2 linked regions of the Homo sapiens genome follow. The protein of the gene in region 1 purifies or fractionates together with the protein of each later gene. This does not show direct contact. Each region holds a gene or a part of one and is shown in the gene's direction. Other genes may lie near its edges.

Region 1 (3,616 bases):
CTAGATGAGTGACCATACTTTTTTCTTTGCTGCTTGGTTTTTCTATCACTAAAAAGCAAATTTAGGTGGAAGATGGATGGGTAAGTCCTTTGTCCTTGTCAAAAGAATTTAGAAAGGGTAAAGGTGGTGGGATTTGAATTCTTTTAAACGGTTTATTCATTGGAAAGGCAAGTGAGTGGCAGTTGACTGTAGAATCTTGGGAATTTTTGAAGGAATTTAAGAGCTGTACTTATTTTAAATAATGAGGAAACAATCAGAGAGACTTAACCAGGGTGGCAACTATGGAAGAGTGGGGGTAGAATCCAAGTCTACAGTTCTACGGCACTGCTTTGTTTATTTTTTCAATCAAGCACACATGAGGGATTGCTTAATAAATTCAAGAGTTTTCTATATAGTTTGGGATTACTACAGACACAGGTACTCTAGCCATGTGACTATTTCAGATTAGTGTTCCCATTGCTCTCCATCCTATTTTTCATATCTAAATGTGTCATGATTTTAGAATCTCTTTGTAAAGAAAACCAAAAAGAGCCATGCCCAAAAGAATGAGCATGAAATGAAGCAATTCAAGTATTTAGAATTTCTTCTTCTTTTTTTTTTTTTTTTTTCAAAATTCTGAGTTAAGAAAGTTCATTGCCAACAGTTGAGGATAAATAGCTCTATTGATTTAGGCAAATGAATGAGAAGATTTAAACATCATCAAGACTCCCAAAGTTGGTGTAATAAAAGTTGAGATGTTTTGCTAGATGCTGAGAGAAAAGGCATAAATAGGCCATTTGTGCTCCTGTAAACAAATGAAATTTTGTAATGATCAAGAGACAGCAAGATATTATAAAACACACTTTGGACTCATCGAGACCTGGCTCAGAGTTGTACCTAATTTGCTTATCAGCATTTGGTTAGACCTTAGACAAATTTTATAACCTCTCTAAGCCCATTTTCTTTATCTGTAAATAAAGGAAAAAGATCTGTTTGGATTTGGGACAGGAGAGTTGTCTGTTTTATAGGGTAATGTTTATGAAAATAATTTATCACCTAGGTACTTAGTAAATACCAGTTTCTGTCTCTGTTTTTCTTCAAAGCTTTGTTGACAATGTAGGATATTGCCAACTAATCCTTTGACTTGAGTGCTTAGCCATGCCCCAATCCAGGCAGCATGAAGAATGATCAAGAAGGGGACACCTAGTGGCAGTTGACCTTTGAGGATCTATCTAGGATCAGGTTACTGATTTGGGACCTCTGAATCAGTACATCATAACATCGAGAGTGATCTCTGCCAAAATTAAAATTCTGTCAGAACAGTATAAGCAGAAGGAAGACATTAGGTCTTTCTGAAATATGGAGCTGATAACTTCTATCAGTTCTGAATTCTGTACTGTCCCACCCCCAAATCATCTATATTGTTGCATGTGCTTAGCTTTGTGCCTTGAATTGCTATTTCCTTTTTATCTTGCACTCAGATGGTATTTTTAGAGATGTTTCTTCAATCAAAACAAGATAAAGTTAAAAAAAAAAAAAAAACAGTGACCCTTTTGCATAAGCCAGAAGAGCAGTGCCTTGCTTCCTGTGAAAAATGCTTGGCAGTTAGCCTGTGTAATTATTTAGCAATCATGTTAATAGATGTTTAAGAATAATGGAACTGGAGCTGTACTGAGCCAAGGATGGAAATGAAGACATGTGAGACTATTTTTTCTTCATCCACCGATACTCTTCAGTTACAAGGATTTAATTTAAAAGGGTTTTAATTAAATGGAATCCAGAAGCTTTGGACGCTCCAGTTTTTCTTCTTAGAGACAAACCCTAGCTCAGTTTCCTGGAGCTTGACTCAGAATGCAGCATGGTACTCCGGACTGACAGTGTGCCAGCTTTATTCACTTATCTCTCTACCTTTTGGCTTGCGTTTATTTCAGGGCTGCCTGACATTTTGACCTTATGTACAAAGATGGCCGATACGATTATTTTTCATCATATATTACAGAAAATACTACTCTTGAAAAATACTCTGAGAAATATGTTCTATGGTCAGATAAGTTTGGGAAACAGTGAATTATTGTTCCTCCTTTGCAGAATCACAATGCACTGTTAGCTAATTAAAGACTCTCAGATGTCCCACTGGAAAGAATCATGTTTAGCTTTGTTTAACCTAGCATTTCCCAAACTTATTAGAGCATAAAACTTTGTTTTTGTTTTTTTTTAATAAGATAGGTAGCTATTTCCTTAGAACACAGTTTGGGAAACTTTTTGTTCATTTGTTTTAATAAGATACCTTAGGTAGCTATTTCCTTAGAACACGAGCCGGGTGCAGTGGCTCACGCCTGTAATCCCAGCACTTTGGGAGGCCCAGGCGGGCGGATCACCTGAGGTCAGGAGATCGAGATCATCCGGCCCAACATGGTGAAACCCCGTCTCTACTAAAAAGACAAAAATTAGCCAGCCATGGTGGCAGGCACCTGTAGTCCTAGCTACTGTGGAGGCTGAGGCAGGAGAATCACTTGAACCCGGGATGGGGAGGTTGCAGTGAGCTGAGATGGCGCCACTGTACTCCAGCCTGGGCGACGAGCAAAAACTCCTTCAAAAAAAAAAAAAAAACATAACTTAGGTAGCTATTTCCTTGGGAACCAATATCTTTACATTGGCTAGAACTGTGAATCGCCCTTTAAAGATAAAGCCCCAAAATACATTTTTTTTCCCTACAGGTAACCAGAGGGTGAAGTAACAGCCGAAGAGGAAACCAGAAGTGAAGTGATTTGTACAAAATGTCGTAGTGTAATTTATTGAGTGTCATGTGGTATTAATCGCAACATCCTGAAAATGCAAATGAATAAAAGTTTGGTCAATGTACCATGACATTCCTTCATGTGAGCCTCCTAAGAAAAGGTCACTGAGCATTCTCTGTTTACATTTTAATTTTAGACTCCAGAATTTCACACTAAGTTTTTCTTCTCATTTCTTATGCAGTAAAAGAAGAGTTTGTATTTCCAATGTGTCTGGCTTTCTGTTCTTTAGTTTTTGTTTCCTTAAAAAGTTTAAACTCCAAAAAGAGAAAAGGATTACTTAGCATAACCAATAGAGGTGGTCTGGAAATAATAAAAGAAAATGAAGGCAAATATAAAACATGAAGACAGTTTCCTCGCATAAGAATATTTAACACACAAGGACCCCAGCAGTTACTTTGCATTAAGCATACTGAATTCTTTCTTGATCTCCAGAATAACTGTCCCCACAATCCTCTTCCCCTCTACCTTTGATTTAACATTGTGCACTCTCTCTATTATACTTATCTTTGTGTTGCAACCTAAGTTCAAGAACCTCAAAGGTAGCTGCTTCTCTTTGAAAGATGCCTGGTTTAATATAAAAAGCTCTTTTAAGAGCTGAATTTATTGACATTTTTCGAAAAACAGTTCTGGATGGGAAGTGATCCTTTTCTACTTTAGTTCACTGGTTCATTTGGGCCATTTTTGATTGGTTGGTTGGTTGGTTGCTTAGTTTTTTCCATCTGGTTTCTAGTTCAGTTGTCCACAAAGTGAACTAAAAGTGCTTACTGTGTTACTGTATTTTCATTACCTTTTTGCTTCCAGTGCTAGTTTCTTCTCATCTCAGACTGCCACGAAAATAG
Region 2 (3,655 bases), on another chromosome or scaffold:
TGGCTTGCCCACTTCTGACTCAAAACACACGCCTCCTCTTCTGCCATATAGTGCCGGGGTGTGAGTCCATCTAGTCAGGGTCAAGCTGGGTTTGCGTTTTGTGATTGCTGTGGTTACGTTCAGTGTACTTGGGGCTTCAGTTTTTCTCGCTGTGGGCTGCCACTACCATTGTCGTTTGCTGAGGGTGGCAGCTGGGGTACCAGTGGTCTTCTAGTGTGAGTATTCCACCCGGCGTTTAGCGGTACCTGCACCCCTGCGTAATGGGTGGGACCTCCTATCTGTGCTTGGTCTCGGGCAGGACTTCCTACAGCTCCTCCTGGAATAAGGAGCATTAGTTCTCCTCTCCCACAGTTGCAGTATTTTTGCTGGGCCCACAGGGTGGACAGGCTTTGGGGCCCCTCCACCAGCAGGTTAAGCCTTTTGCTTTGCACGAGAAAAGGGCCCAGCAGAGTGCTTGATGATTCATGGCTGTCAGTCAGTTGCTTCTGCCTGCTATGAGACATCTCTCCTGTTTTTCCTGACCATCTTTCTTGAAGCACCCATGGGAGGCAGGTACCCTGTGGAAGTCAGAAGGTTGTCTGGGAATGTGAGCTCCCTGTGTCGGGCACATCTGGCTTTGTTTGAGCCACCCCATGCTCCTGCCAGCCACCATCTGGCCCTGGGCAGCTGACTGCAATTCGAGCTGATTTCTCCCTGCCCTGTTAGGTGCTAGCAGGTGTCCTGTCCATCCGGGCTCTGCTGAGGGGCAGTTCTCTTTCCCATCTTGGGAAGTTAGGTTGTTTGTGTGCTTTGCAACCCCAGCTCTCTGATGGGCTCAAGAAAAGATCTTGAAGTTTATGTAGCTTTTTCTACTGTAGGGTCAGTGACGTTCTTTGCAGTTTTCTGTATTCTAAGCAGAAACTGGTCCTATTTGGAATTTTTATTTTGAATTTTGTCAGAAAATAAGTGTGTCTCTTTGAGGATGCATATTTGTATACACAGGTGCATTTATCATTGCTGCATAATCTATATTCATGTTACAGTTGACTTTCTGCTTATTAGAAATGTAAATCCTCTTGAACATAAAATCTGAAAGGCAAAAGTCTCACATCCAAGGTATTTCTTCAAGGCCATCATTGAAGCTTTCAGGTTAGCTTGGTAGATGTCATGAAAGTCTCAGGGCCCCTCAGATGTGATGGGAAGGTTGCTGGAGGACACCCTCCCTCTGTTATCCCTAGCAAATCCCTTCCAGGAAGGCTCCTCAGAGCCTCGACAGGTACACAGTGGACTCCCTCCCTCTGCGGGGACTTCTTACTGAGAAACTTGATTGTAGATGGAAGCTTCTCAGCACATTCCAAACTGTGACCATGGATCAGTGTGGGCCATGTTCCAGTTGAACATACTAGGAAGTGCTTTGCTCTGTCTCAGTCCCCATGGATGCAGAACTCTACAGCTTTTGTTTTCCTTACACTCTAAGGAACTTGAATAGCATGTAAGTGCATTTCCAGATACACAGAGACTGGAGGTAACTGTACAGGAGAGGTCTGCTTAATCACTCCTCTTTGCGTATGTTTGAGACAGGTGCTCAGTAATCCAGTATTACAGATGATTTAAATGGGTAACCTATTTTCATTTGTCTCGCTGATTTTTAAACATTGTCTTTTTGTAATTCCTTTTTGTAGACAGCTGATTTTACTTCTAGAGTTATATAGTCCCAGAGATGTTTATGACTATTTACGTCCCATTGCTCTGAATCTGTGTGCAGACAAAGTTTCTTCTGTTCGTTGGATTTCCTACAAGTTGGTATGTATTGAACTTTTAAAATTTTAGATCAGCAAACTCTAAGATCCTAGAATGGAAGCTGTTCCTCATTTCTCCATGCTCACCCTCCCAGGTCAGCGAGATGGTGAAGAAGCTGCACGCGGCAACACCACCAACGTTCGGAGTGGACCTCATCAATGAGCTTGTGGAGAACTTTGGCAGATGTCCCAAGTGGTCTGGTCGGCAAGCCTTTGTCTTTGTCTGCCAGGTAAGCGAGGCCCTGGGCTTACCTGTTTGTGAGTTTTTCTCCTAGAAGAATGTCTTCTTTAACTTCCTACCTCTCTCTCACCCTCTTCCTTACTCTTAAGGAACAGAACCTTATAGTAGCCTGGCTGTTTATAGGATCATCTGCCCCCATTGTTGGGCATCTGGTGGCCCCTCTCTCCCAGCTAGCCAAGCCCCTCCTTACACTGGCATGCACCACACACACCCCACGTGCCTGCTGTATGTGCTTGTTCCACACCACATGCCTGGTATGTGCGTGTTCTGCTCTGCACACATTCAGACGTGTGTATATGTACATTTCACAGTGCACATACATGCATGTTCCTCACTGTTCCTCACTGCATATTACACAGGCATACATACATGTACCCCACCACACACATACTGTGCACACATATACCATACCACGGTTCCCACTAGAGGGTGCTCATGTCTGGGACCCAGAGCGCAGGTGTGAAAATGAAACACCTGTGAATGAACACTCTAGGTCTCCGTAGAGCAGTTTAAAAACTGTGTCTGTCCGTGTGGGCAGTTAATTATGTAATTTTTGATTTGAGTTCCCAAGTACGTGGAATTTTGGTTAAAAAGCAATAACTAAAATTTGTACCTGTGGTCACTCAGAGATTTTGTTAGCCAGTAGTCGAGTTTTTGGCTACATTGACAGAGAAGCCTAGAGCAGCTGTTTCTCTTCCCCAGACTGTCATTGAGGATGACTGCCTTCCCATGGACCAGTTTGCTGTGCATCTCATGCCGCATCTGCTAACCTTAGCAAATGACAGGGTTCCTAACGTGCGAGTGCTGCTTGCAAAGACATTAAGACAAACTCTACTAGAAAAAGGTAGGTAGTGACTCCACTAGAAGAAGCGTGTGAGTAGAGAAGGAGGTCTGTGGACTGCACTGGATCAGCAGATATCAAAGCAGAAGTATTGTCTGCTCAGAGAAAATAATCTGGTGGAAGGAAATACTTTAGTTGTTCCGGTGATTCTCCCAAGAGGGCATGGAAGATGAAAGGGATTTTTTAATTAGCCCTCTACTGTTCTAGTTGGAGTTTATTTATCGGAAGCATGTATCATTTTTATCATTTAAAACTTAGGTTTTTTTGTTTGCTTGATATTTTGAGACGGAGTCTCGCCCTGTCACCCAGGCTGGAGTGCAATGGTGCGATCTCAGCTCACTGTAACCTCTGCCTTCCGGGTTCAAGCAATTCTTCTGCCTCAGCCTCCCCAGTAGCTGGGATTACAGGTGCCCGCCACCACGCCCAGCTAATTTTTTGTATTTTTAGTAGAGATGGGGTTTCACCATGTTGGCCAGGCCGGTCTCGAACTCCTGACCTCATGTGATCTGCCTGCCTCAGCCTCCCAAAGTGCTGGGATTACAGGCATGACCCACCGTGCCTGACCTAAAACTTAGTTTTTAAACTTGGGTGTTGTTTTTATGTACAAACCATTGCCTGGCAGCGTGCCACTTGCAATCTGCAGTATGGGGGCTGGTACCTACCTATGTTTGCTCTCCCTTCTGCTTTCTCTTCATTAGGCAAGAGACAGATGCCCCATAGTATTTGTTTTGTTGGAAATTATAATCTCTTCAAGATTAAAGGTGGTTTATTTATTTTAATCGACCCCCCCGCCGC

Evidence for each region.
Region 2: the proteins of AQR (region 1) and PPP4R1 fractionate together in Homo sapiens (co-fractionation; one large-scale study listed by BioGRID). This does not show direct contact.

What each region holds. Positions count from the first base shown.
Region 1 is NC_000015.10:34,851,148-34,854,763, reverse strand, and holds the end of AQR (RNA helicase aquarius), read left to right. Parts: 3' UTR 1-2,982; downstream 2,983-3,616.
Region 2 is NC_000018.10:9,548,405-9,552,059, reverse strand, and holds part of PPP4R1 (serine/threonine-protein phosphatase 4 regulatory subunit 1), read left to right. Parts: intron 1-1,661; coding exon 1,662-1,782; intron 1,783-1,873; coding exon 1,874-2,008; intron 2,009-2,721; coding exon 2,722-2,863; intron 2,864-3,655. UniProt on the Homo sapiens protein: Regulatory subunit of serine/threonine-protein phosphatase 4. May play a role in regulation of cell division in renal glomeruli. The PPP4C-PPP4R1 PP4 complex may play a role in dephosphorylation and regulation of HDAC3.